Regions from separate parts of the Homo sapiens genome. Here all the other regions are reported to be linked to region 1. Evidence: microRNA targets listed by miRTarBase, many of them from high-throughput screens and not tested one by one. Region 1 holds a microRNA gene; each other region holds the end of a gene's coding sequence.
Evidence for each region. The annotated mature microRNA hsa-miR-6844 reads UUCUUUGUUUUUAAUUCACAG and lies in region 1 at 1,749-1,769, shown strand. An mRNA with a match to its seed (bases 2 to 7 or 8) in the 3' UTR can be bound and repressed. Matches are read on the target gene's strand: a 7mer-m8 pairs with bases 2 to 8, a 7mer-A1 pairs with bases 2 to 7 and ends in A, and an 8mer does both.

Region 2: miRTarBase lists WDR26 as a target of hsa-miR-6844. Seed matches in the 3' UTR shown: 7mer-m8 at 2,003-2,009.
Region 3: the mRNA of DUSP8 is a reported target of hsa-miR-6844. Seed matches in the 3' UTR shown: 7mer-A1 at 729-735.
Region 4: miRTarBase lists YAP1 as a target of hsa-miR-6844. Seed matches in the 3' UTR shown: 7mer-A1 at 1,848-1,854.
Region 5: miRTarBase lists RNF150 as a target of hsa-miR-6844. Seed matches in the 3' UTR shown: 7mer-A1 at 947-953.
Region 6: miRTarBase lists ACAA2 as a target of hsa-miR-6844. Seed matches in the 3' UTR shown: 7mer-A1 at 1,504-1,510.
Region 7: miRTarBase lists DCK as a target of hsa-miR-6844. Seed matches in the 3' UTR shown: 7mer-m8 at 925-931.

What each region holds. Positions count from the first base shown.
Region 1 is chr8:124,506,216-124,510,283 of GRCh38, reverse strand. MIR6844 (microRNA 6844) reads left to right here and starts at 1,708; the gene lies at 1,708-1,769. It overlaps TATDN1 (TatD DNase domain containing 1), which reads left to right. Exons shown (of 12, transcript NM_032026.4): 7 at 1,596-1,681; 8 at 1,770-1,810.
Region 2 is chr1:224,386,206-224,390,273 of GRCh38, forward strand. It overlaps WDR26 (WD repeat domain 26), which reads right to left. Exons shown (of 14, transcript NM_001379403.1): 14 at 1-3,655. The coding sequence ends at 3,630. Among named protein-coding and RNA genes, the nearest start is that of MIR4742, 10 kb to the right of the region's middle.
Region 3 is chr11:1,553,111-1,557,178 of GRCh38, reverse strand. It overlaps DUSP8 (dual specificity phosphatase 8), which reads left to right. Exons shown (of 7, transcript NM_004420.3): 7 at 1-3,128. The coding sequence ends at 661. LOC124902608 reads left to right here and starts at 1,699. Exons shown (of 2, transcript XM_047427956.1): 1 at 1,699-2,230; 2 at 2,499-2,572. The coding sequence starts at 1,699. The coding sequence ends at 2,572. RefSeq lists an enhancer at 1,015-1,812.
Region 4 is chr11:102,229,664-102,233,731 of GRCh38, forward strand. It overlaps YAP1 (Yes1 associated transcriptional regulator), which reads left to right. Exons shown (of 9, transcript NM_001130145.3): 9 at 39-3,761. The coding sequence ends at 277. Among named protein-coding and RNA genes, the nearest start is that of BIRC3, 86 kb to the right of the region's middle.
Region 5 is chr4:140,864,519-140,868,586 of GRCh38, forward strand. RNF150 (ring finger protein 150) reads right to left here. Exons shown (of 7, transcript NM_020724.2): 7 at 1-3,861. The coding sequence ends at 3,743. Among named protein-coding and RNA genes, the nearest start is that of TBC1D9, 110 kb to the left of the region's middle.
Region 6 is chr18:49,780,043-49,784,110 of GRCh38, reverse strand. It overlaps ACAA2 (acetyl-CoA acyltransferase 2), which reads left to right. Exons shown (of 10, transcript NM_006111.3): 10 at 180-1,947. The coding sequence ends at 264. Among named protein-coding and RNA genes, the nearest start is that of ACAA2, 31 kb to the left of the region's middle.
Region 7 is chr4:71,028,664-71,032,731 of GRCh38, forward strand. It overlaps DCK (deoxycytidine kinase), which reads left to right. Exons shown (of 7, transcript NM_000788.3): 7 at 689-2,251. The coding sequence ends at 715. Among named protein-coding and RNA genes, the nearest start is that of DCK, 37 kb to the left of the region's middle. RefSeq lists an enhancer at 115-615.

The DNA of each region.
Region 1 (4,068 bases):
ACTTTAGAGGTTATGGAAATAGTGACTGGTTATATTATCAAAATCTCTTTTTGTCCAAGTTGTCGTTAATATTTCCTACACTGCAAAATTTCAGCACTTTGTTAATGAAAGGAAAATATTTTTGCTTATTCTAACCCAGCAGAATCTGAAAAGGAGATTTTAAAACCCAAACATTTGGTAATACAGACATAGACGACCTATTTTAGGAAGACTATTTCTATTTTTTTAATTTTTAATTTTTTTTTTTTTTTTTGAGACAGAATGTTGCTCTCTCACCCAGGCTGGAGTGCAGTGGTACAATCTCAGCTCACTGCAACCTCTGACCCTGGGTTCAAGAGATTCTCATGCCTGCCGAATAGCTGGGATTACAGGCATGTGCCAACATGCCGGCTAATTTTTGTATATTTAGTAGAGACGAGGTTTCACCATGCTGGCCAGGCTGGTCTTGAACTCCTGCCCTTGAGTGATCCACCCGCCTTGGCCTCCCAAAGTGCTGGCATTACAGGTGTGAGCCACCACGCCCGGCCTGAAGACTGCTTCTTAAGAAGTACATTTCTATTTCTAATTTTAAAATTTAGCATTTTCAAGAGAGCAAAGGGGGTAAAATAGTCCTGCACATCAGGAAATATGATATAGAAAAATATAGCAAGAGAGGCTTAAGTTAAACAGAGAAATTGTTTCCCCAAATTAAAGTGCTTAGAAGAGGTAAGCACATTTAAGAAAATAATAAGCCACCTGTTATCCTGATTCAGTTGAACCTACCATTTGTGAGAACAAGGGGGAGCACTGTGTTGAAGTGAAAAGACAAACAGAATGAACATTCGTTGTATCCTCTGAATATTGTCATTATACTCCGGGACCAGAAGGAAGCTTCTTGAAAACGTAACAGGTTTTTGTCGTTTAGGCTGGGACTTGGAATTAGAGCAGTGAAGTTCTGTTCCAAGTTGGCCATGCCAGGTATTGTTATCTTGGACAAAGTACTACACCTCTCTGACACCAGCTTTTATACTCAGGTTATTTTGAGGATCAAATGAGACAATGGTATCTGGTACTTGGAAAAACCTTCTTATCAAGTACTCTTTAAGATATTCAGGGCTACCACTTTATCATGTAATTTTCTTTTTTTAATAGCATAATTGAGTTATTTGCTGTTTAGCAAATACTTAGATTTCATTTTTGAGGGAAACCTTGTTCATTTTGCCCAGTGGCAATAACTTCTTTTATAACAGCACATAAAAAACTGGTTGCAAAATGGAATAGATTAGCATGCAGTATGAAGCTCTCCTGGGCTTCTCGCTTGGTGAGTTGACTCCCACTGATGGTGCTCCCAGTGGCAAGGGGCCAGTGGTGTTACTTTCTGAAAATTAAAGGGCCCAGATAATTTTGTAAGCCCAGAAAATGAAGTATTTCTTTCCAGAAGTTGTAAGTTATAAAAGCCCTTTGATAAGCCTGATGTGCTTTAAATATTCATGATTTTTGTCCTGTAATTTCTAGAGAATTAAATACCTTTAATTTAAAAGCTCTTTTGACATCATTACCTTCCTCATGCTAAAATACAATTTGTAATGAGAATTTTTTTTTTTTGCATTATGCAGATATTTTGAAAAACAGTTTGAACTGTCAGAACAAACAAAATTACCAATGTTTCTTCATTGTCGAAACTCACATGCTGAATTTTTGGGTGAGTTAAAACCAAAGTCTCATTCAGAACTTAAGAATTTTGTAGAAATCAAGCTATTTGCTAAAAGTTCTTTGTTTTTAATTCACAGACATAATGAAAAGAAATAGAGATCGGTGTGTAGGGGGAGTGGTAAGTATAAAATAGTCATTTTTAATACAGGTTGAACATCTCTAATCCAAAAATCCAAAATACTCCCAAGTACAAAATGCTCCAAAATCTGAACCTTTTTAAGCACTGGCATGAGATAATGACACCTTTGCTTTCTGATTATTCATTGTACACAAATTTTGTTTCACGCACAAAATTATTTAAAATATTTACCTTCAGGGTGTGGTATAAGGTGTATGTGAAACATAAATGAATTTCATGTTTAGACTTGAGTCCCTTCCCAAAGATTTCTTTTTATGTATATGCAGATATTCCAAAATCTGAAAAAATCTGAAATATGAAACACTTTTGGTCCCACACACTTGGGATAAGGGATACTTAACATTTATGTGACACACAAAGCATCTTGGTTATTAAGGATGGCCCCTAATTCAGATGTCAACATTTAAATTTTTTTTAAAAAGGAATAACAAAGAAAAACATAGGAATTAGATAGAATTCAATAGAATTAGGAGCTTCTTTTCCCATCCTTTGAAAGACATGTAAATTTACTGTTGAATTTATGGACCAGGTGTGGCATAAACACAAATCAGTTTTAATTACAGTTCCTTTGTTCAAAGTACAAGAATGCGTACAGAATTCCATTCACAAGAAAACCCTGTGAAATTTTTTTTGTTTTTTGTGTGTGTTTTTTGTTTTTTTTTTTTTTTGGTTATTAAGAAAGGGTCTGGCTCTGTCATCCAGGCTGAAGTGCAGTGGCACAATCTCAGCTCACTGCAACCTCTGCTTCCCCGGGATCAAGCCATCCTCAGCCTCCCAAGTAGCTGGGACTACAGGCATGTGCCACCATGGCCAGCTAATTTTTTTGTATATTTTGTAGAGATGAAGTTTTACTATGTTGCCTAGGCTGATCTCGAACTCCTAAACTCAAGCAATCTGCCCACCCTGGCTTCCCAAAGTGTTGGGATTACAGGTGTGAGCCACTGTGCCTGGCCCTTGAATTCTACACATCCTAATGCTGTGCATGATATTCTTCGTCTCTTCTGTCAGCTGTTCTTTAATGTTCTTCCATCCAAATTTTGAGCAAATATAAACTAATTTTTATGTTTTGAAATATTTTACCATTTGTTTTAGGTTTGCCTTTCTCATTTCTTGTCCGCTGTATTCACCTACTATTCTGATCTAGAGAGTCATTCTCCTTTCTGTAATTTGCATTCTGCACTAAACACTTCTCTGATATAGCCATTTTAGTCATTATTCTGGAGACATTTCCCATAAATACTATCTGCTAACCACATACCTCCGATATCTATGGCAGTGATTTTTTTTTTTTTGAGATGGAGTCTCGCTCTGTCACCAGGCTGGAGTGGAGTGGCACAATCTCAGCTCACTGCAACCTCCGTCACCTGGGTTCAAGCAATTCTCCTGCCTCAGCCTCCCAAGTACCTGGGACTACAGGTGCACACCACCACGTCCAGCTAATTTTTGTATTTTTAGTAGAGACGGGGTTTCACCATGTTGGCCAGGATGGTCTCGATCTCTTGACCTCATGATCCTCCCCCCATCAGCCTCCCAAAGTGCTAGGATTACAGGCATGAGCCACCTTGCCCAGCCATGATTTTTAGTCTCTTCGATCATGGACTCCTTTGGAAACCTGCCTTAGAAAAATGCTCAGATATACATATATTCATATGCAATTTCAGGAGAGTGACTCAGTGAGTGACTGTGTCTAGCAAAAGAACTGTAATCCAGGTAGATTAAATCACAGTTACACTATGCCTGCTAAGGAAAGAGGAAATAGCACCAAGCACTTGCATTCCCATGCGGCCTGACGTTGACAGTTTTATGCGTATTCTCTAAGTTCAACCTCTGCCTCATCTATACTACTAGTAATATGTATGCATCCTGCATTGCTGTAATGTTAATATTACTGTGCACTTTTTTCCTGTTTGTACTAACTCTGTAATTTTTTCCTGTTTTTACTTACTCTGTAATTTATCCTGTAGGAACTGTACTTAAGAATTGAGAGGGGTTTTAGTTTTAACTAATGCCGTTGGGATTATTAGTGGTATTTATCCTAACCTTCAGACTCTACCTCTCAGCCCATTTGCTTTATTTCTTTTCTTTTTTTCTTTTTCTTTTTTTTTTTTTTTTTTTTTTGAGACAGAGCCTTGCTCTGTCACCCAGGCTGGAGTGCAATAGCACGATCTTGGCTCACCACAACTTCTGTCTTCCAAGTTCAAGCAATTCTTTTGCCTCAGCCTCCCGAGTAGCTGGGG
Region 2 (4,068 bases), not on the chromosome of region 1:
AATCAGATATGGTTTCTGAAATGGAAGTAATGTGTTGGAGGGCAACCCAAAAGGACAGTTGCGAAATTATGAATGAGAAATTAAAGTAAAACCAAATCAAAATATTTATACATTTTAGAGATGGGACAAAAAGGATATTAAGAAAAATGTCTTCTTTCCTCCCCATTCAAAAGCAGCCATTCTTCTACTGTGAAAGAAACTGACATGGATATTTTCCCTTTCAAGAGATGTATGATATATTTACCCACTGTGAGGCAGAGGTGATAGGGTCAGTTCTTGTTTGCAGGAACCAACATCCTAAAAAAGAAAATGTCAAGATGGGGAGGGGTGGGAAAGAAGGGTTTTCTATTAATGTCATGGAATATGCCACTGTAGAGGCAGAACACTCCTAATAATAACATTCACCAGATTACTACTGCTGTTTTTTTCAGACTAAGAAAATACTGACAAAATTGGATTTTTTTCTCCTTTCAATTGCAGGATATTCTGATTATTTAAAGTTAGGGAATCCCTTTTTTATCCCCCCACCCAATAAAATGGGCCAATTTGTAGGGATATATGCAAATAAAATGTTCTCTGTTTAAAATACTTACCTGGTTTAATATAACACATTTATCTGGCCAATAAGAGCAACAGAAATGTAGCTGTTATGAAGACTAAAAAAATACAAAAACCAAAGCTGAAGCTTTGTCATCCCTCCCCACTAACTCCCACTCCAATTCTTTACTACCCACATACTAATCTCAGTAATCCCCAAGTCCAACATTTTACCATTAATAACCAATTATTTGGAGGAAAAAGACATTTAATTTTATATTTGCTCTAGCCCTTAATCAATGCATAACAACAAAAACATTTTTAAGCACATGGAAATGAGCCTACTAACCTGATTTTTGGAGCCCAAATTCTCCACTCTATTTTGATCTATGTGCAAAAAGTATTGGTACTTTTCAATTTATACATTTGTTAGTATCTTGTGGCTGGCTTCATAGTATAAGACTCACTCTTAAGCCTACTATAGAGCCTACAGCACTATCAGAAGTTTTCAATTAATAGCTATGGATCAGAAAATCCTGCGATCAGTTTCTCATACCATAAAATCCTAGGCTTCTTTACCATTGATTTCACCTTTCGAGCACAGTCACTGCATGGCAAATGTATGAAACAGACGTTTACAGCAAATAAGTACCAGTATGTACAGGAAGCTGCCAGTTAAGACAGACCCGGAAAACAAACTCACCTAGCTGCTATAGAAACCTTTGCATAGTTGTTACTCCGTTTTAATAGGAGTTATGTTCTTGTAAAATGTGCCTCACTTTTACTCCACTTTTTAAAAAGTGTTTTTAAACTGTACTTCAGAAGCACTCTGAAAACTCAGATCTAGGGGTGGTTAGGTGAAGTAGAGTAGAATCTGAGTGCCAAATTGCCCCTGAATGGGCACAAATCTGAGTGTTACAAATGCACCGTAGCACACTGTAACCAAATTTGTAAACAGCTGTGGAGTTTCTATGCCCACATTTAGTGATGTTACCATAGAGACTGGGGTGTATTAACGGCTTCAGGGTATACATGAATCACTTAAAATATGAATGGTTTTTAACTATACTGAGGTAAAGAGAAGTTGCCACTTAATTACATACAGTTACCAATGAAGATTTTTATTCAAGCTTAAAGTAAAAAGTAATTTTAGTTAAGAAAAATGAAGTACCAGATAAACTGTAACATATATTTTAACTTAGAAGTATCAAAACAGGAATTTTTTGATTCTCTAAGTGGTGGTCTCTGCAAAATGGAGCTTGAAGAAATCTTTTACATACCAATTTGATAAGAGTCTGCTGACCACGATCTGTCATTTTCTTTACTATGGGCTTCTGGGAGAATGCATGCTATTTTAAGGCCAAATGTGTTTTTCTTTCTTCTCCCCTTCCCTGACTTTTCCCTTTCTCCCATCCCCGACCACCTACCCCACAATGGAAGAATTTTTGACATCCAAGCCCTCTTCTCTTTGTGGATTCTGGAGTCTATTCATGATCATAATTATATTATAGACTTGGCTACACCTAAAGGGGAACTTAGTACAAGACTTTTTCTTCACCAGAATCTTATTTTGGGGGTATCCCCATTCTCATTCCAACAGCTGGAGTCACCCTATTTATCCTCTACTGAAAAAGGGAGGGAATTTCAAGGGAGACTATGTTATGTTGTATTCAGCTGTTACGGAGTTTAAAAGCACAATGTGAACATCAGGCTTTTGGCTTATTTTAAATGTGAAATTCTCAAAATTAAAAGTGCTTTTCCATGAAGGAAACCTTTCCTTAAACTAAAACAGGAGGGGAGAGGGAAAGACTATCCACAGCACCAGTTTAGAATGAGGTTCAGTATGGCAATATCTGAAAAAACTGAGAAAAAATATTCTTTAAATTTATGTATCCCTATATGTCAAAATATTAAGGGCAATTAAGAAAAATGACTATGAGGTTTTAATCCCAGTTTAAGTATGTCTGTAACCTGCTGAATTCTTCTAATAATTTCAATTATACTATAAACTTCCAAAGTGGTTGTATCGCTGATTCCTACTCTTTTGCTAGATCACACCAAAATTACTTCCTAAGTTGAGAACAACTTGGAACAAGCTTTACTGAAAACCAACTGACTACTGATGTCTCATGTTGGTGTATTTAAAATTCTTTTTGAATCTTGAATTTCTTCAAGATCGGGTACTGATGTTCCTTCAGGAATAAAACAAAAGGGGGGAAATCTTCAAAGCATTACTCTGAATTTCTTGTGTAATGTCCTTCCAAGCACTGTTTCTGACCATGTCTCATGTGGTATTCCAGAAGAGCATCAGTTATACTGTGTATCTAAGTCATTGAGGAAACTGTTTTTAAGCTGGTTTAGATTCCAAATGTATACAAATGAAGTCACTTTAATCCTATAAATACTTCTTAATTTATTTTTAAAAAATTGTGCTGTTAACCCTTTTACGGGGCAACAAGCTATGTGAAAAGTACAAAACTTTTTGTCAAATGTAATATTGAGAGTGCTTTTGACATAGTTCACTGGTTTATCATCTGGATCAGTATATACTGCGCAACGGGCAAGGCTAGAATCCATGAACCAAGCTGCAAAGATCTCAAGCTAAATAAGGCGGAAAGATTTGGAGAAACAAAAGAAGGAAATTCTTTCCTATCCAATGTATACTCTTCAGACTAATGCACTCTTTCTATCAAGCCTTCTAAACTGTTAAATAAAGTTTTCCAAACAAGCATTTAAACTTCATTACACAGAAGAGCAACAAGAATGGTATCCTGCCAGACAAAAGACAGGAAGGAAAAAAATATATATACTGAGTTCAATGGGTAAGCCTGAATGTAGCACAGTTCTTCACAACCGATGGGGGAATAATTCAACATGGTGTCCAACAACGTTCTAACGACGTGCTTCATCTCAACTGGTTACTATGAAGCAAGGTGTAAATGTTTGGCCCCAATCGGGCTTCAGAAATGGTTCTTTTTTCATGACGAGCATGTCTGTCCAGCTATCAATCATGTTTGTTTGCACCAAATCCCAAGCCATTAAAATACGACTAATTTTAAGTTAAACAGAAGTCGTCTGCTCCAAATTCACCATCAACTATCCATGCTACTGCATTCCTCTGAATGAAGACAAGATGAAATGTATGGGGGGCGGGCGGGGGAGGGAAGAGGGGAAGGAGAGAAAAAAATTACCAGTTAGAAAGTTTCAAAATTAGCATTATGACATTACAAAATTATACTAACATTAAAAAATCAAAGCAAATTCTTGAAACTTTCATCATACTCATTAAAACAATGTCTGTATCATGTCTTAGACCATATATTATGATCTAAATTCATGATTTTGAATACTGAAGAAACCCAAGTGAATAATCATGTTAGAATCTCATGCTTTTATTTTTTTGAGACAGGATCCCACTCTGCTGCTCAGGCTGGTGATGTAATTTGGGCTCACTGCAACCTCTGCCTCCTTGGCTCAAGTGATCCTTCCACCTCTGCTTCCTGAGTAGCCAGGACTACAGGCACATGCCAC
Region 3 (4,068 bases), not on the chromosome of region 1:
GCGGCCCGACGGCCCCGGGCCCCCCGACCCCGGCGAGGCCCCGAAGCTCTGCAAGCTGGACAGCCCGTCGGGGGCCGCGCTGGGCCTGTCCTCGCCCAGCCCGGACAGCCCGGACGCCGCGCCTGAGGCGCGCCCACGGCCCCGCCGGCGGCCCCGGCCCCCCGCCGGCTCCCCCGCGCGCTCCCCCGCGCACAGCCTCGGCCTGAACTTCGGCGATGCGGCCCGGCAGACTCCGCGGCACGGCCTCTCGGCCCTGTCGGCGCCCGGGCTGCCCGGCCCTGGCCAGCCGGCCGGCCCCGGGGCCTGGGCACCGCCGCTCGACTCCCCAGGCACGCCGTCGCCCGACGGGCCCTGGTGCTTCAGCCCCGAGGGCGCACAGGGGGCGGGCGGGGTGCTGTTTGCGCCCTTCGGCCGGGCGGGCGCCCCGGGACCAGGCGGCGGCAGCGACCTGCGGCGGCGGGAGGCAGCGAGGGCTGAGCCCCGGGACGCGCGGACCGGCTGGCCCGAGGAGCCGGCCCCGGAGACGCAGTTCAAGCGCCGCAGCTGCCAGATGGAGTTCGAGGAGGGCATGGTGGAGGGGCGCGCGCGCGGCGAGGAGCTGGCCGCCCTGGGCAAGCAGGCGAGCTTCTCGGGCAGCGTGGAGGTCATCGAGGTGTCCTGACCCCTCCGCTGCCCTCGGCCCCGCCGCCCGCAGCCAGGCCCGTTATAAATGTATATTATATATAATGCAAAGAAAGGTAAATGGTTTTACTGGGATTTTTATCGAGAAGTAAATATTTCGATTTTTTATTTATTTAAGCTGTTCATTCTGGCAATGATTTGGCAACAGTGCGGGTGGTCCTCGAGCTCTATTTTTACTGTCTGGTATTTAAACTGAAACATACGTTTCTAAGCAATACGAGGCCACCTTCAGTCGCAAGCTGGGTGCCAGGCCTGGGGCCCCTCCCAGTTCCCCCGCCCCAGGAAACACTGCTGACCTTTGCAAAGGCTGCCGAGCTTTCGTGCACTTTTTACATAACAAAAAGGTGAAAAAAAGGAAAAAAAAACTTCTTTGCCACAAACTGAGCCGCAGAACCCCCCTTCTCCCCCCACCCACCTCCCCTGCTCCCTCCCTTCTCTGCGCCGGCCTAGGGCTCTGCACCAAAGCCATAGGATGGAGGAGCAGGAGCTGGTGTGCCCCGGAGAGGTGCGGCCAGCCCTCCATCAGCTCCAGGCACCAAATCTTGGTGGCAAGGAGGGCACCCCGCTGCCCGTTGCCCCAGAGCTGTTCTCTGGCAGGGGAGGACAGGCATTGGGCTTCATGGTGCCAGGGTGTTCAGAGGGGCTGAGAAATAGAACAGTGTGTGTAGGGGCTTCGGGCAGGGGGTTCTGGAACGTCAGATGAGGTGCAGCCCAGGGGAGGACAGAGGTGTTAGTGCCCCCAACTCCTGCCAGAGCCCCAGTCCAGCCACAGAGTGGCTCAGAAAGGCCATTCCTAGAGGGCTGCGGCCCTCCCTTCTCCCTTGCCCATGCCCCCAGAGCTGCCTGCCGGGCAGGGTGGCACCATTGCAGGAGAGGAGCTTGGCCTCCGGGGGTCAGGCAGGAGGCGCCTGGCTAGCCAGTGCTGGCTCCACTGGGCAGGAAGCCCTGGACCCCCAGGTATGAGGAGGGGGTGGTCTTAGGGTTCTGTTCCAGGTCTGCCCCGCCCCCCTCCCAGCCATGCCCCAGGCAGAACTTGGAATTCAGGTGTGCACCTGCAGGCTGAGGGGCTCTGTGAGCAGGTGCTGCTCACACAGGGAGTTCAGGCGCCAGCCAAGCCCCTGTGCTGCTGGGATAGGCCTGCTTCACTTAGGGAGCACTGCCTCAAGACAGGTAAAGCCCCCTCGTTTGCCCCCACCCCCATGGGGCCGCTCAGGAGAGAAACTCCCATTCACCCCTTTCCCAGGGTGCTCTCTCTCTAGGTGGCATGCCAGCCCCCAAACACAAGTGGCTTTTGGGCCCAGGTGGGTCAGCCTGCTGCCCCTGCCCCATACCCCCTCGGGCCATTGGGACCCCTGCCCTTCAGATGTCCTAGGGTCTAGGAGTGGGGCCAGTCACTGTGGGAAGAGGCCAGGGGCTTGGCCGGAGAGGCAGCCCAGGGCAGGACCCAGTCCTGAGTCCTGGAGCAGGGCCAGGGAGGCGCCCATCCCGCCCCAGCCAGCCGCCCTCTCTGCTGTTTCTTCTATTTGTTCTTCTTTTCACCCACAGCTCTGTGTTCCTGTCATCCCTCCTTTCAGCAAAAGTCCTGTTCCCGTTCCCTCTGTCCCCACCCACTCCTGTTCCCCCAAGAAAATAAGCTATCGTTGTATTTGCAATCTATGGATTAGAGGTTTAAGTATTTATTATTATTGGTTAATTATTATTAATTATGTAAATTTGCCTCCCATATGTCTGTTGCGTTGGGTTTCTGAGGAGACCCTGGGTGAGGAGGATGCACTGGCTTCCCGCTTCTCGCCCCCCACCCCTGTGCTGTCCGGGAGACAGTGGTCTGGGGCCACTGGTTGGGCCCCCTTCTCCCTTCCCCCTTCCCCTTGTCCCTTCTGCAGGCCGTTGAGGGGGGCTGTCTGTCTCAGTCTGTCTCTGCTCCCACTCTTGAGGCACTGGTTACCGCAAAGTGAGCAGCCAGCAGGGGGGCGAAGGTCCTGTGTTGGCCACTGCCTCCTCCAGTGCTGCAGGAGGCGGGCTGAGGCCCCACCTGGTGGCTTTCACCTGACCCAGCCCTGAGTCCTCTCCAAGCCTCTCTCCGGCCCCTCCCACCTGGCCACTGCCTCCTCCAGTGCTGCGGGAGGCGGGCCAGGGCCCCACCTGGTGGCTTTCACCTGACCCAGCCCTGAGTCCTCTCCAAGCCTCTCTCCGGCCCCTCCCACCTGGCCACTGCCTGGCATTGGGATCGCCCCAAAATGGACCCGGCCCCTCCTGTTATTTGCTGGGAAGTCCAGCGGAGGAGAGGGTGCAGGTCCCCCGCTGAGCCTCCAGTCTCTGTAGACTGGGCTGCCGGCCCTTCAGCCCCCCTTGGAGCCCCTCCCGCCACAGCCGCACCTTCTGCTCCCGGCCCCTCCCTTTGTATTTGGAGACAATGTGTTGTAATAAAGCTTAAAGTGGATGTTTTCCCCACGACTCCGCGCCTCTTCCTTCAGACTGGTGGTGGGCAGGGTGGGGGCAGAGGCTGCTGGGAGGCAGGCCTGAGGCCAGAGCCTGGTGTGTTGGGTCTGGAAACTTGCCCCAGGCTCACACCGCGGGTGAGCTCTGAGAATAGTCCCTGGGGGCCAGGCATGGGCACAGGTCCTCAGCTGCACCTTTAGGGTGTAAAACACACTTTTTCAGTTGTTACAGGCTAGTAAAAGCTTAAATAACTTAAAACGATATAAAACCTCAGTGTTACCCACCAGTCCCCTCACTCCCACAATCCCAATGTGAACAGTTGGATGCTTCCCTCCCAGCCCCTCCATGTGTGCTGTGTGCTGTGTGCATGTGTGTGGGTGCATATACGTACCAGCAGAAATAGGGGTCTAGCTATATATAGTGTCTCCAACCAGACTTTTTTTTTTTTTTTTTTTGAAATGGAGTTTCGTTCTGTCATCTAGGCTGGAGTGCAATGGTGCGATCTCCGCTCACTGCAACCTCCGCCTCCCCGGTTCAAACAATTCTCATGCCTCAGATTCCCAAGTAGCTGGGATTACAGGCACGTGCCATCACACTTGGCTAATTTTTGTATTTTTAGTAGAGATGGGGTTGCACCATGTTGGCCAGGCTGGTCTCAATCTCACTGACCTCAAGTGATCCGCTTGCTTTGGCCTCCCAAAGTGCTGGGATTACAGGTGTGAGCCACCGTGCCTGGCCTCCAACCAGCTTTTCAAATCTTAAGTAATGTGCATGTCATACAAGGATTAAAAGCACACCAGGGTATGTGGTAGAAAGTACTGGTTTGTCTCCCCCAGGCTTGTCCCCAGCCTCCAGGGTCCTCTCCCTGGAGGCAGCCCCAGCCCGGCCTGCAGAGCCCCGCCTCCCCCCCCCCCACCCCCCACCGAGGGCAGACCTGGCTGCTGCAGG
Region 4 (4,068 bases), not on the chromosome of region 1:
TCAAAAAGGACTTTGTTATCTCTGTGTGTTTCCACTAGGTGATACTATCAACCAAAGCACCCTGCCCTCACAGCAGAACCGTTTCCCAGACTACCTTGAAGCCATTCCTGGGACAAATGTGGACCTTGGAACACTGGAAGGAGATGGAATGAACATAGAAGGAGAGGAGCTGATGCCAAGTCTGCAGGAAGCTTTGAGTTCTGACATCCTTAATGACATGGAGTCTGTTTTGGCTGCCACCAAGCTAGATAAAGAAAGCTTTCTTACATGGTTATAGAGCCCTCAGGCAGACTGAATTCTAAATCTGTGAAGGATCTAAGGAGACACATGCACCGGAAATTTCCATAAGCCAGTTGCAGTTTTCAGGCTAATACAGAAAAAGATGAACAAACGTCCAGCAAGATACTTTAATCCTCTATTTTGCTCTTCCTTGTCCATTGCTGCTGTTAATGTATTGCTGACCTCTTTCACAGTTGGCTCTAAAGAATCAAAAGAAAAAAACTTTTTATTTCTTTTGCTATTAAAACTACTGTTCATTTTGGGGGCTGGGGGAAGTGAGCCTGTTTGGATGATGGATGCCATTCCTTTTGCCCAGTTAAATGTTCACCAATCATTTTAACTAAATACTCAGACTTAGAAGTCAGATGCTTCATGTCACAGCATTTAGTTTGTTCAACAGTTGTTTCTTCAGCTTCCTTTGTCCAGTGGAAAAACATGATTTACTGGTCTGACAAGCCAAAAATGTTATATCTGATATTAAATACTTAATGCTGATTTGAAGAGATAGCTGAAACCAAGGCTGAAGACTGTTTTACTTTCAGTATTTTCTTTTCCTCCTAGTGCTATCATTAGTCACATAATGACCTTGATTTTATTTTAGGAGCTTATAAGGCATGAGACAATTTCCATATAAATATATTAATTATTGCCACATACTCTAATATAGATTTTGGTGGATAATTTTGTGGGTGTGCATTTTGTTCTGTTTTGTTGGGTTTTTTGTTTTTTTTGTTTTTGGCAGGGTCGGTGGGGGGGTTGGTTGGTTGGTTGGTTTTGTCGGAACCTAGGCAAATGACCATATTAGTGAATCTGTTAATAGTTGTAGCTTGGGATGGTTATTGTAGTTGTTTTGGTAAAATCTTCATTTCCTGGTTTTTTTTACCACCTTATTTAAATCTCGATTATCTGCTCTCTCTTTTATATACATACACACACCCAAACATAACATTTATAATAGTGTGGTAGTGGAATGTATCCTTTTTTAGGTTTCCCTGCTTTCCAGTTAATTTTTAAAATGGTAGCGCTTTGTATGCATTTAGAATACATGACTAGTAGTTTATATTTCACTGGTAGTTTAAATCTGGTTGGGGCAGTCTGCAGATGTTTGAAGTAGTTTAGTGTTCTAGAAAGAGCTATTACTGTGGATAGTGCCTAGGGGAGTGCTCCACGCCCTCTGGGCATACGGTAGATATTATCTGATGAATTGGAAAGGAGCAAACCAGAAATGGCTTTATTTTCTCCCTTGGACTAATTTTTAAGTCTCGATTGGAATTCAGTGAGTAGGTTCATAATGTGCATGACAGAAATAAGCTTTATAGTGGTTTACCTTCATTTAGCTTTGGAAGTTTTCTTTGCCTTAGTTTTGGAAGTAAATTCTAGTTTGTAGTTCTCATTTGTAATGAACACATTAACGACTAGATTAAAATATTGCCTTCAAGATTGTTCTTACTTACAAGACTTGCTCCTACTTCTATGCTGAAAATTGACCCTGGATAGAATACTATAAGGTTTTGAGTTAGCTGGAAAAGTGATCAGATTAATAAATGTATATTGGTAGTTGAATTTAGCAAAGAAATAGAGATAATCATGATTATACCTTTATTTTTACAGGAAGAGATGATGTAACTAGAGTATGTGTCTACAGGAGTAATAATGGTTTCCAAAGAGTATTTTTTAAAGGAACAAAACGAGCATGAATTAACTCTTCAATATAAGCTATGAAGTAATAGTTGGTTGTGAATTAAAGTGGCACCAGCTAGCACCTCTGTGTTTTAAGGGTCTTTCAATGTTTCTAGAATAAGCCCTTATTTTCAAGGGTTCATAACAGGCATAAAATCTCTTCTCCTGGCAAAAGCTGCTATGAAAAGCCTCAGCTTGGGAAGATAGATTTTTTTCCCCCCAATTACAAAATCTAAGTATTTTGGCCCTTCAATTTGGAGGAGGGCAAAAGTTGGAAGTAAGAAGTTTTATTTTAAGTACTTTCAGTGCTCAAAAAAATGCAATCACTGTGTTGTATATAATAGTTCATAGGTTGATCACTCATAATAATTGACTCTAAGGCTTTTATTAAGAAAACAGCAGAAAGATTAAATCTTGAATTAAGTCTGGGGGGAAATGGCCACTGCAGATGGAGTTTTAGAGTAGTAATGAAATTCTACCTAGAATGCAAAATTGGGTATATGAATTACATAGCATGTTGTTGGGATTTTTTTTAATGTGCAGAAGATCAAAGCTACTTGGAAGGAGTGCCTATAATTTGCCAGTAGCCACAGATTAAGATTATATCTTATATATCAGCAGATTAGCTTTAGCTTAGGGGGAGGGTGGGAAAGTTTGGGGGGGGGGTTGTGAAGATTTAGGGGGACCTTGATAGAGAACTTTATAAACTTCTTTCTCTTTAATAAAGACTTGTCTTACACCGTGCTGCCATTAAAGGCAGCTGTTCTAGAGTTTCAGTCACCTAAGTACACCCACAAAACAATATGAATATGGAGATCTTCCTTTACCCCTCAACTTTAATTTGCCCAGTTATACCTCAGTGTTGTAGCAGTACTGTGATACCTGGCACAGTGCTTTGATCTTACGATGCCCTCTGTACTGACCTGAAGGAGACCTAAGAGTCCTTTCCCTTTTTGAGTTTGAATCATAGCCTTGATGTGGTCTCTTGTTTTATGTCCTTGTTCCTAATGTAAAAGTGCTTAACTGCTTCTTGGTTGTATTGGGTAGCATTGGGATAAGATTTTAACTGGGTATTCTTGAATTGCTTTTACAATAAACCAATTTTATAATCTTTAAATTTATCAACTTTTTACATTTGTGTTATTTTCAGTCAGGGCTTCTTAGATCTACTTATGGTTGATGGAGCACATTGATTTGGAGTTTCAGATCTTCCAAAGCACTATTTGTTGTAATAACTTTTCTAAATGTAGTGCCTTTAAAGGAAAAATGAACACAGGGAAGTGACTTTGCTACAAATAATGTTGCTGTGTTAAGTATTCATATTAAATACATGCCTTCTATATGGAACATGGCAGAAAGACTGAAAAATAACAGTAATTAATTGTGTAATTCAGAATTCATACCAATCAGTGTTGAAACTCAAACATTGCAAAAGTGGGTGGCAATATTCAGTGCTTAACACTTTTCTAGCGTTGGTACATCTGAGAAATGAGTGCTCAGGTGGATTTTATCCTCGCAAGCATGTTGTTATAAGAATTGTGGGTGTGCCTATCATAACAATTGTTTTCTGTATCTTGAAAAAGTATTCTCCACATTTTAAATGTTTTATATTAGAGAATTCTTTAATGCACACTTGTCAAATATATATATATAGTACCAATGTTACCTTTTTATTTTTTGTTTTAGATGTAAGAGCATGCTCATATGTTAGGTACTTACATAAATTGTTACATTATTTTTTCTTATGTAATACCTTTTTGTTTGTTTATGTGGTTCAAATATATTCTTTCCTTAAACTCTTCTTTGTTGTTTTTAACAATTGATATTTGAAACTTTTTTTTTTTTTGGCTTCTTACTGGTCTTCCAATAGAACAAGAACTGGCAATAAAAGGTGATTACAGTAGTAACTGGGAAGACAAGTTAAACTTAAGTTTCGTTGTGCTTTAAGTTAGGCTTGACATTTGGAACTTTTGAAGTATGGATATATAATTCTTTTAACTTTGTGTTCTTACTCTTCACATACACCATCCTCATCCGTGGTAGTGTCTAAGCAGAACTGCGTCTGCTTGATTCTTAAATGACTTCACTACATGTGACGGCACAGAGGAC
Region 5 (4,068 bases), not on the chromosome of region 1:
AGACCGGATGATCACAGGCCCCCAAAGATTCTTTTTCAAGAAGGCCACATAAAGTCTTGCATTTCTCATTCTTTCCTCCCAAGTTCGTGAGTTTTCACTACAGCTGTGGGACTGGGGGACACTGGGAAAGGACTTTCACCAACCATGAACAAGAAGAAGGGGTTGAGGTAAAGTTGGGTGATTTCAGTCTGGAGTTCTCTTTGGCTCCTAAGTGCCACATATCAGTCCGAGGGTTTGCCATAGAAGTGAGGGGTATAATTTTGTTTCAGCACCAAATCAGCATGGTTTGTGTGAGTTTTAAGTAACAACTGGTCAGAGGAGTAACAACAAATGGTCATGGACATCAATGATATGGTTAGAAAGTTCAAGCAGAAATTTTAAAAAGGGTGCCTGAATCTTTATTCACTACAAAATAAATGGACCTCTGGGCCTCTCATTAGGCGACTTGGGTGGTGTCCAGTTCTCCCTGGAGGTAATTAAGCTTTTAACCTTCTTTTCTTTTGTAAGGGTCGGGGGATCTTGTGAGAATACTGGAGGAACTCTAGACCTGCATTGTCCAATTGGCAGCCACTAGCCACATGTGACTATCCAAATTGAGAGGTGCTGTGAGTGTAAAAGACACAATGGATTTAGAAGACTTAGTACACAAAAGCATGTAAAACATGTCATTAATTTACATTAGTGACATGTTGAAACAATATTAGGTTAAAGTACATGATTAAAATTATCTTTACCTGTTTCTTTTTACACTTTAAAATGTGGCTAGTAGAAAATTTAAAATTATGTCTGTGACTTGCATTACGTTTCTGTTGGACAGTGCTAGTCTAGACTCTTGCTATAGAAAAATGCACATCTGCAAATACACATACAGTCTGCATTTGCTTCTAGAGGGTACACACACCCTCTGACACTCATCTGTAGACTACCAGGTCTCCAGGTCAGTCTCTTCTTTGGGGGAGGTAAAGAAGGCTATAAGGAAGGGCTGTTCCCCTTTCTTCTGAAAGAGAAACTTTCTGGTTAAGCTTTTTTTTTTTCTTTTTTTTTTTTTTTTTAAACTATCAAAGCTACAGGAAAATCCTCCAGAAACAAACTTTGGTAAGTAGTGAATGGCAAAGGCTCAGGGGGTTTGCAGCAGGACCTCCTTGGGGTCAGATCTGCCAGCCTCGGGTTGGCCTTTCAGACCCCTCATCGTCTATGAGGCATCCTGTAAGTGCAGCTGTGGCCAGGGCTTGCATATGCAATCAATTCCTGATTCACCTAGTTCTTGGCAGGAAGAGAAAATACTCGTTAATCAGAGGACTAAACAATCCAAAGCGCATTCTCTCTCTGGGAATGGAATATAATTTATATTTCTGTTGCTATTGAATTATCCTTCTAATTCCACTGGACTAAACTTAATACCAGTAATACTAAAATTTGTTTTGGGCAAAGCCGACTGAAGGAGGAGTCAGTGGCGCAAGCCTATGCTGACTGTGAAAAATAAACACCTCTGAGATCAAGAATCCCACAGTGAGAGCTAGGATTTGAAGGTATCCAGAGATTGCAAACTCTGTGACTAACAGCAATTTTTAAACAAGGCAAAACAAACCAACTCCTACTTGGACTTAAAACTTCAATCATTTAGATTTTCATTCTCAGCACCATAGTTGTGCCAAGTCTCAAAGGCTGTTATTACATGATACATGTCAAGTAACTCTACCTCCCCAAGCTACGAAGCCTGATTGCCACAAGTCATAGCTATCTGCAAAAATGGATCCTGCCTCTGAAAGACTCATCTGTGGTCCCACAGCCAGAGGAGCTTGGGGACTCATGTTATTAAACCCTTCACATTATAGATGAAGAAGCCGAGGCTTAGTAAAGCGTGTGGTTCATCTAGGATTCTCGATTCAGAGCTCTCTTCATTCCTCCCTGCCTCTTTTCCCACACATAGAGAGTGGATTTCATTACAGGAAGCATTGGACTCCTAGGGAGATGCAACCTTTCTGAGGGTAATAATCATCTGCCTTGCCTTACTGTCTACTTACAAACCATCAAATAGGAAATTGGTAAAGGTGGTGAAAAAGGAGCAGCTAGTATTCTCCGTTGACCTGCACACCATGTTTCAGCAGGCGGCAAGGATTTACAGCAGAACCAAACTCTTTTTGAATGAGTATTAGTCTAATGAGGTGGAAAAGTCCCCATCAATACATAAAAACAACTCAGTGAGAAAAGCTTTCTTTCCTGGTTAATCCAAGCCGCAGCCTGGTGTTTGCCAGCTGTGTAGAGATAAGGTGATCCGTCTGATTGTTCAGAGACGCTATCAATGACCTTAGTCATCTCTGTATCTGGATAGTCTGAATATATTACAAAATTGCCCACTGAAAAAATAGCACATTTCTGTCATAGTTACAAAAGATGAATAAAAACAGAAACAGTTTAAAAACACCATTGGGTTTCAGTATTTACTTGATACCTCTTTTCCTTTCCCTCTTACTTTGTCTATTTCAGTCAGGATAAACGATCTAGCAAATTCTCATGCTGCATACTTTTTGGTTCAAATGATACAGCAAATCACACCTCATTCCTCACTTGGTATCTGGACACACTCAGGGAGCCCTGGGAAGCAATCTGCTAGGGATTCACCTAAATCCTCCCACATGGTCTGGTGAGATTCAACAGAAGTGTGTCGAAATTAAGGTAAAAGCTAGGTGCTACTGCAGCCCCCACTATGTTTGCCATTGGACTTAAAAATGATTGGCTTTTCTCTAAAGCCTCCATTTTTTACAGAACCCACTTACAGAGGTAAGAAAAAAACTGTTCTAGCCCAGGGGAAACCAATGCAACTGGCATTTTGTTTTCAATAGGAAGAAAATGTGGTATCTGGTTTTAAAACCAGCCCTACAACCACCAAAGACTGGATGCCTTGGAGGGGACTTCTGAGTTCAGAATTTCAGCCAAAGACTGTAAGACCCAGAAGAATGAAACGGCTTCCCTAGAGCTCCCTTCTCATGTCACGTGGGCCCTTAATCAAGCCCGGCAAGTGGAAGCAAGTGTGATGTGGCTTAAAATAACCAGCAGTGGCCTCAGCAGATTTAGGGCTTAGTGTTGGGGTCTCTGGCAGCTGGGGTTTTTAAAGGCCCACTTAGAAGAACTTAGATTCTTAATGAAAGCTGGCCTTAGTCCATTTCAGGGTGCTGAGGCACTTCTCAAAGCCATGCACACTTCATGCTGGGAGGTCAAGACCACATATCTCAGAGATGGAATACAAACTGATCATAGCAGGAACTGGTGCTTCTAAACAGAAACCTATACAAAAGCTGGAGTGCATCAAAGGAAAAACAAAGGAATAGATGGAAAGTAAACTACAAATAATCTTTAAAAAAATTGCCAAAGAAATCAAACAACATGCCAAAAACAAGAATGATGAGACATGGAAAGAATTGAAATGAAACTAAGAAATCCTAAAGGTGGCCTTTCAGTCTCTGTTTTAGGAGCTTCTGAAGTGTATGTCTACATGGACATAGGAGTGGAAATCAGCTTTCAACTTCCCAGCTGCCAAGGCCACAGACTGCCATACCGATGGAGAAACTGCATCCTGATTGACAAGACTTTGGATATTGCTTTTCGTCAGCATTCTTGAACGGAGCGCCCTGGAGTTGCCAAGGTGATCTGGAGGTGTGTGTGTGCCTGGTCCAAGTCTTGGAGCACTCTTCCCTTCCTTTCCCTTGGGTCCTACTATCTCTTTGCTTCTGGATTTGTCGTTTCAAGATTTCACTTCTTCACAGTCCTGGTCAGTGGAAAGTTCTACATCAGACAGTCCAACCTCCATTGCCATGATCAAGGAAATGTCAGAATCACTGCTTACAGCTGGCTCCTGCTCACCTGGGAGGAGAAAGCAAAGTTCACAGTGAACACCGAGCTATGTCTTTGCATGCTGCTTATTTCAGTACAATTGCTTGTAATAACATTTCTTTAAAGGCCAAGAGAAGGTATTAGAAAAATTGGGTATTCTGTAAAAACTCTAGTTAAAGCCTCATCTCACATGGGCCAAAAAGTTAAATGCAAACAAAAGAAACTAGAATAATAAAA
Region 6 (4,068 bases), not on the chromosome of region 1:
AAACTTTCAGCTTTCCAAAGTCTGTTGCCTGTTGTAATTATACCAAAATTGAGGACTGGGGAAAAGATTGAGCAGATGAGCTGAATAAGGATGAGTAATGCAGATGTGATGTTATTAGTTCTATTTCATTAATCTGATTTTTTATTAGAGTAGATTTCAGTCACTGCTTTCTTTTTCAGGCGTCGAGGTGGAAAATATGCCGTTGGATCAGCTTGCATTGGAGGTGGCCAAGGTATTGCTGTCATCATTCAGAGCACAGCCTGAAGAGACCAGTGAGCTCACTGTGACCCATCCTTACTCTACTTGGCCAGGCCACAGTAAAACAAGTGACCTTCAGAGCAGCTGCCACAACTGGCCATGCCCTGCCATTGAAACAGTGATTAAGTTTGATCAAGCCATGGTGACACAAAAATGCATTGATCATGAATAGGAGCCCATGCTAGAAGTACATTCTCTCAGATTTGAACCAGTGAAATATGATGTATTTCTGAGCTAAAACTCAACTATAGAAGACATTAAAAGAAATCGTATTCTTGCCAAGTAACCACCACTTCTGCCTTAGATAATATGATTATAAGGAAATCAAATAAATGTTGCCTTAACTTCAGTTAATATTTTCCTGTCATTTATATTTTTAAAAATTTTAAATTGTGATAAGATACACATTACATAAACTTTACCATCTTAACCCTTTTTTAGCGTACAATTCACTGGTATTAAGTACATTCACATTTTTATACAAACATCCCCACTTTTTATCAACAGAACTTTTTCAGTCACCACACATGGAAACAATAACTCCTGATTCTCCCATCCCCCATCCCCTGACAACCACCAGTGTATTTTGTTTCTATAAATTTGATGACTCGAGGTACCTCATAAGTGAAATTATAAATATCTGTCCTTTCGTGACTGGCTTATTTTACTTTACTTTATATAATGTTCTCAAGATTCATCCACCTTATGGTGTAGCATGTGTCAGAATTTCCTTCTTTTTAAAGGCTGAATAATATTCTGCTGTGTGTATAAACCTTACTTCCTTCTTCCCAGCTTAAAGGCCATCTTTCATCCTTTATTTTCTCCCTTTAAAATGCCCCCACAACACTTCCATTGCTTTATTTGTCTGTTCTAAGACTGGATATCTAGTAGGGCAAGGCCCTATTCTTGTTAACTTCATCAAAGAGCCACTGGAAATTTTAATTAAGATTAAATTGAATTTATGGGTTATACATTTATTGGGGGGAAATTTTTTTTTTTTTTTTTGAGACAGAGTCTCGCTCTGTCCTCCAGGCTGGAGTGCAGTGGCGCGATCTCAGCTTACTGCAAGCTCCGCCTCCTGGGTTCATGCCATTCTCCTGCCTCAGCCTCCCCAGTAGCTGGGACTACAGGCGCCTGCCACTACGCCCGGCTAATTTTTTGTATTTTTAGTAGAGATGGGGTTTCACCGTGTTAGCCAGGATGGTCTCGATCTCCTGACCTCGTGATCCACCCGCCTCGGCCTCCCAAAGAAGTGCTGGGATTACAGGCGTGAGCCACTGCACCCGGCCTTTTTTTTTTTTTTTTGAGATAGCATCTTGCTCTGTCACCCAGGCAGAATTGCAGTGGCACAGTCATGGCTCACTGAATAATAGATGTTAAATAATACTAGATGTTAAATAATAGTATCATAAGTACCTACACTGTTTCCTCAACCCTTTGCTTATATGGTTTCCTTCATTTGATTAAAAAGCTGAAGTGGCACATACATCCCCCTTTCTGTCATAGAGAGGCAGATGACAAGCGGCCTACCCACGGTTTGGGATAATGGACTAGTGGCAACAGGCAAGTCCAGCTTTTATTGTTTGGGATCCTTACTGAGAAGCAGCAGGCTTCCTCTACTGTCATAAAAATATTAAAAAGTAAGAGCCCTGTATAATTTCTCATAATAAAACAATGTTTTGCAGAACATTTTGTTTTTTACATATTCTTCGTTTGTTGTAACTTATAATAAACTTTCTCTGGGATGAAATGACCAAGGTCACATGTTACCATCTTCTAGAAACACTAGTGATAGTTTATCAAGCCTATGAATTTCCAGATGAAGAAGGAATTGTCGCCAATAGCTGAAGCAATCCGCTTCCCAGGGCATCTCCTGGCACAGGCCTTGGTAAAGGTTTATCGCTTTTCCCCATAAAGGTCTTGTGTAGTTTTGTTATCCAACTGAGACCTTTTTCCTATTTTCTTTTACATTTGATTATTGCTAATGAATAGCTTTTGGATATTATATATCTAGCCAGCTTGTGGAACCCTTTTATTAATTTGAATCATGCAGATAGTATCTCATTTATTTTTATTGCCTTTTTGCCTTGTGCTGAGACCACTGGCGCAGTACTGGAGGAAATAAAATGTGGTAATGCTCATATTCGTTCCTCACTAAGTTGATGCTTACAGTAGGTTTCTGATAGATAATGCTTTATCAAGGTCAGGAAGTTTCCTTCTATTCTTAGTTTTCTTAAGGACTTTATGAGTGGTTCATTCATTCTTCACTCTAATCTTACTTGGCTGCCACCACTTAAGCCACAGTTCTCTTGCTCATGCCACCCTTTATGTTCATATTGCCAGAACTAGTGGAGATCTTTCTGTCTTCACCTTATTTGACTTCTCCAAAACATGACCCAGTTGACCACTCCTCCTTGAACTGACTTCTGTTCATGTCTCTGCTTTTCCACTGCCTCTCAGGCCATTCTTTTTCATCTTCTTGGGCAGCTGCTCCACTGCTGTGAGTTTCTTGGGATTGGTTTTTGGATTTGTGGCGATTTCTTTCTATGATTCTAAATACCATTACATTTGGCTGGGTGCAGTGGCTCATGCCTGTAATCCCAGCACTTTGGAGGCCAAGGCCAGAGGATCACATGAGCCCACGACTTCAAGACCAGTCTGGGCAACATAGTGAGACCACATCTGTACAAAACAAAAAACCAGAAAAATGAGCTGGGTGTGATGGCATGTGCCTGTAGTGCCAGCTGCTCAGGAGGCTGAGGTGGGAGGATTGTTTGAGCCCAGGAGGTTGAGGCTGCAGTGAGCCGTGATTGGGCCACTGCACTGAAGCTTGGATGACAGAGTGAGACCCTGTTTCAAAGTACATACATATATACATACATAATATATCATCACATTTACATCCCAGCACTGGTCTCTACCTCCAGACTGCTGTAGCAAACTCCCGTCTTGACTTTTCTCACAGATGTCTTCTTAAACATGCCCTGAGCAGTAACTTTTATCATATCCCACTTAACCAGCTCCCTCTTCAAGTTCTTCTCAGTGCCAGTAGCTCAAGTCAGAAATCCAGGCATTTCCCTCAGTTCTACCCTCTCCCTCACTCTTCATCTCCAGTCTATCAGCAAGTATTATCAGTTCTTCCAAGATATAGCTCAAATACATCCATTTCTTCCCCTCTCCACCTCCACTACTGTGGTCCTAAGCCACCAGAATCTCTTGCCTGGACAACCACAAGAGCTTTTAGAGGCTCCTACCTCCATTCTTACCCCTCTTCAGTCATTCTCTAAGAAGCCACCAGGAGCATCTTTTAAAAACTCAAACTATGGTGACTCTAACGTGATCTCAGGCCACTCCTCTAGCTCCCAGTGCTTCAGACAAATGGCCTTTCTGGGGACGGCTTGCACACCATGCTCTTTCATGCCATAGGGCTTTGGCAGATGTTCTTTCCTGTGCCTTCCTGGGCCTGGGTCCCGCTCACCAAGTCTCAGATGCTTCCTCTTCAGTCAGGTTCTCTGTTCTGTTCACCCTAAGTTCCTCGCCCTGAGACTTTCCACTGTAGCACCCTGACCTTTATGGAACTTTCCTGAATTCATATTCACTTAGTAGTCCATTTACTGTCTCACTCCCTCATTAGACTGTAAACTCCATAAAGGCAAAGACTTCATGTGTTTAGCACAGCGCCTGGCACATGGTAGATGCACAATAATGTTGTTGATGGAATGAGTGCTTGGATGGATGGGTGAATGGATAGATGGACAGATGATGTTTGAAGAAATTATAGCATAAAAATTGCTTAATCTTCAAAGGATT
Region 7 (4,068 bases), not on the chromosome of region 1:
TGGCTCACTGCCATCTCCACCTCCCAGGTTCAACCAGTTCTGCCTCAGCCTCCTAAGTAGGTGGGATTACAAGTGCACGCCTCCATGCCTAGCTAATTTTTTTTTTTTTTTGAGACGGAGTTTTGCTCTTGTTGCCCAGGCTGGAGTGCGATGGCGCGATCTCAGCTCACCACAACCTCTGCCTCCCAGGTTCAAGCGATTCTTCTGCCTTGGCCTCCCTAGTAGCTGGGATTACAGGCATGTGCCACTATGCCCGGCTAATTTTGTATTTTTAGTAGAGAAGGGGTTTCTCCATGTTGGTCAGGCAGGTCTCGAACTCCTGACCGCAGGTGATCTGCCCGCCTCGGCCTCCCAAAGTGCTGGGATTATAGGCATGAGCCACTGCGCCTGGCCTATTTTTGTGTTTTTAGTAGAGATGGGGGGTTTCACCATGTTGGCCAGGCTGGTCTGAAACTCCTGACCTTAAGTGATCCACCCATCTCGGCCTCCCAAAATGCTAGAATTACAGGCATGAGCCGCTGCGCCCGGCCTTAACAATATTTCTTTGGAAAGTAAATGCAATGGCATTGTGGTAGTTACTTATACAGCTGGGGTCTTCAACTATTATATACTTTTAAATGAAGATGAATATTAGATACCTCAAATTAGTCAAGGAATTATACTGATTTTTTTTTCTTCCTTTCCTCAGGTCAAAGAGTTTTTGAGTACTTTGTGATCTTGCTGAAGACTACAGGCAGCCAAATGGTTCCAGATACTTCAGCTTTGTGTATCTTCGTAACTTCATATTAATATAAGTTTCTTTAGAAAACCCAAGTTTTTAATCGTTTTTGTTTTAAGGAAAAAAGATTTTTAAAATGAATCTTATGCAAAACTTTTTGACCAGTTTCTTTTCTTTTGTTTTTTTTTTAAAAAAGACATTTAAAGACAAAGACATTATTTCTCATAGCAGGAAATGTAGAGGTAGATGGTTCCAGTATCAGCATAGTGACTAAACTACATTATAAAAGATCCAGCTTCCTTCTGTCATTCCCCTCTTTTGTCTTCCTCAGCAGGTTGGCTTTTTTCCCTGGTGCCTCTCACTTCGTTGGTGACCAGTTTCTTAAACTGAAAGCTTTAATGTTACATAGTAAATGGTAGTGTGTCCTGTGTAAATTAGTGTACCTATTAAAAGTTGCAAAGTGGAATTAAAGGAATCCCTAGAATAAGGATTCTGAAGTTTTATTTTAAATTATTATCTTCTTAACAGTTTAGTCCCACCTCTTACTTCCTGCCTCAGTCTGCTTTCTCTACTGTCTGGATTAATTAGGCAGCCTGCTATAAAGTTAAAGTCACACATTTCTATTTTGCAAACACTGTGATTACTCTTTGCTTTGTAGTTTGCTTTGCTTTGTAGGGTTCTGCTTTTAAGTTTTTCTCTTTTTCAGACAAATTACTGATAAAAATGATATTGCTCTATATGTAATATATCCTGAAAGCATTATTTTTTGTTGAATAGGAAATAAAATTAATGAAGACAGAGGCTAGAAAGCATCCATTAATTAATGAGACACACTTAACTACTTATCTCTAAACCATCTATGTGAATATTTGTAAAAATAATGAATGGACTCATCTTAGTTCTGTATATAAATATATTTTCTTTCTAGTTTGTTTAGTTAAGGTGTGCAGTGTTTTTCCTGTGTATTAAACCTTTCCATTTTACGTTTTAGAAAATTTTATGTATTTTAAAATAAGGGGAAGAGTCATTTTCACTTTTAAACTACTATTTTTCTTTCCAAGTCATTTTTGTTTTTGGTTTCTTATTCAAAGATGATAATTTAGTGGATTAACCAGTCCAGACGCACTGATCTTTGCAAAGGAGACTTAATTTCAAATCTGTAATTACCATACATAAACTGTCTCATTATACGTATGCATTTTTTTAGTTTGTTTTTGTTTGGTATAAATTAATTTGTTAATTAAATATTTCTTAAGTATAAACCTTATGAACTACAGTGGAGCTACACTCATTGAAATGTAATTTCAGTTCTAAAAAGATGTAATAATCATTTTAGAATTAAAATTTATTCTACTTTTAAATAAATTATGAATATTAAAGGTGAAAATTGTATAAATTACTTTGATTCCATTTTAAGTGGAGACATATTTCAGTGATTTTTAGTAACCTTTAAAAATGTATAATGACTTTTAAAATTTGTAGAATTGAAAAGACGCTAATAAAAATTTATTATTTATTTGTCATGACTCAAAAGTTGTCTCAGTGTGGTGGTCATAATAGAATTGAGCCTAATGGTGGTCTGGATTATCTCTTGGATCTATTACCTATATCATGTCTTCCATTAGAATTTATTTATTGCTCTTTATAGTTTGCTCTCCTAGAAAGGTAATTAATAATACAAGACTTATTTTTCTCATCCAGAATTTTCTCTTCTGCTATGCCTAAAACTTGAAACTTATACCGAGCCACCTAGAACTTAAGTCTGTCATATGTTAAAGAACAGAGTTGTAAAATGTTTCTAAAATAGAGATATAGATGTTATTGCCTTTGAAAAATGCTAGATACATTGCAACATTAAGTCTGGTAAATAATAGCCTTCTTCATTTGACTAACTTACCTCTTCTTTTAATTTTTTTTTTTTTTTTGTTTTGAGAGAGGGTCTTGTTCTGTTGCCTAGGCCGGAGTACAGTGGCGCAGTTATAGTTTACTGTAGTCTTAAACTCCTGGGCTCAAGCAATACTGCCTCAGCCACTTAAGTAGCTGGGACTACAGGGCTTTCACCACCATGATGGCTAATTTTTTAAAATTATTTTTTGTATAGATGGGGTATTGTTGTCCAGTCTGGTCTCAAACTCCTGGGCTCAAGTGATCATCCTGCCTTGGCCTCCCAAAGCGCTGGGATTACAGGCACGAGCCATTGTGCCCTGCGCTAAAAGCTTTTTTTGAAATAGCTTTAGACTCATAAAAGTTGCAAGAATATTACAGAGTTCCTGTTTACCTGTCACTCAGTTATTTCCCAATGATAACTTTATTTAACAATAATATTTTATCAAAACAATTAAATTTGGTGTACTACTATTAACTAAACTACAGACCTAATTTGGATTTTACCAGTTTTATGTCTTACTTTAATTCATAAACTTTAAAGCATCTTTGGCTGGCTCTTTTTTCGGACTCAGCCCGCCTGCACCCAGATGAAATAGCCTTGTTGCTCACACAAAGCCTGTTTGGTGGTTTCTTCACACGGACGCGAGAGACATTTGGTGCCAAAGACCCGAGTCAGAGGGACTCCTTCGGGAGACCAGTCCCCTGTTCTCACCCTCACTCTGTGAAGAGATGCACCTACCACCTTGGGTCCTCAGACCAACCAGCCCAAGGAACATCTCACCAATTTCAAATCCGGTAAGCGGTCTTTTCACTCTCTTCTCCAGCCTGTCTCGTCAATCTCCCTGTCCTTCCAATTCCAGTTCTTTTTCCTCTCTAGTAGAGACAAAGGAGACACATTTTATCCATGGACCCAAAACTCCGGCGCCGGTCATGGACTCAGGAAGACAGTCTTCCCTTGGTGTTTAATCACTGTGGGGACGCCTGACTGATTATTCACCCACATTTCATTGGTGTCTGATCACTGCAGGGAGCCTGCCTTGGTGATTCACCCACATTCCCTTGGTGGCAAGTCAATTGCGGGGACGTCTGCTTTGGTTGCTCACCCACATTGCAGCCCCGGGCTGCTCGCCCACCCCCTTCCCCGTGTCTCTACCTTTCTCTTTAAACTTACCTCCTTCACTATGGGCAACCTTCCGCCCTCCATTCCCCCTTCTCCCTTAGCCTGTGTTCTCAAGAACTTAAAACCTCTTCAACTCACACCTGACCTAAAACTTAAATGCCTTATTTTCTTCTGCAGTACCACTTGGCTCCAATACAAACTCAACAGTAGTTCCAGGTGGCCGGAGAATGGCACTTTCAATTTGTCTATCCTACAAGATCTAGATAATTTTTGTTGAAAAATGGGCAAATGGTCTGAGGTGCCTGATGTCTAGGCATTCTTTTACACATTTGTCCCTCCCTAG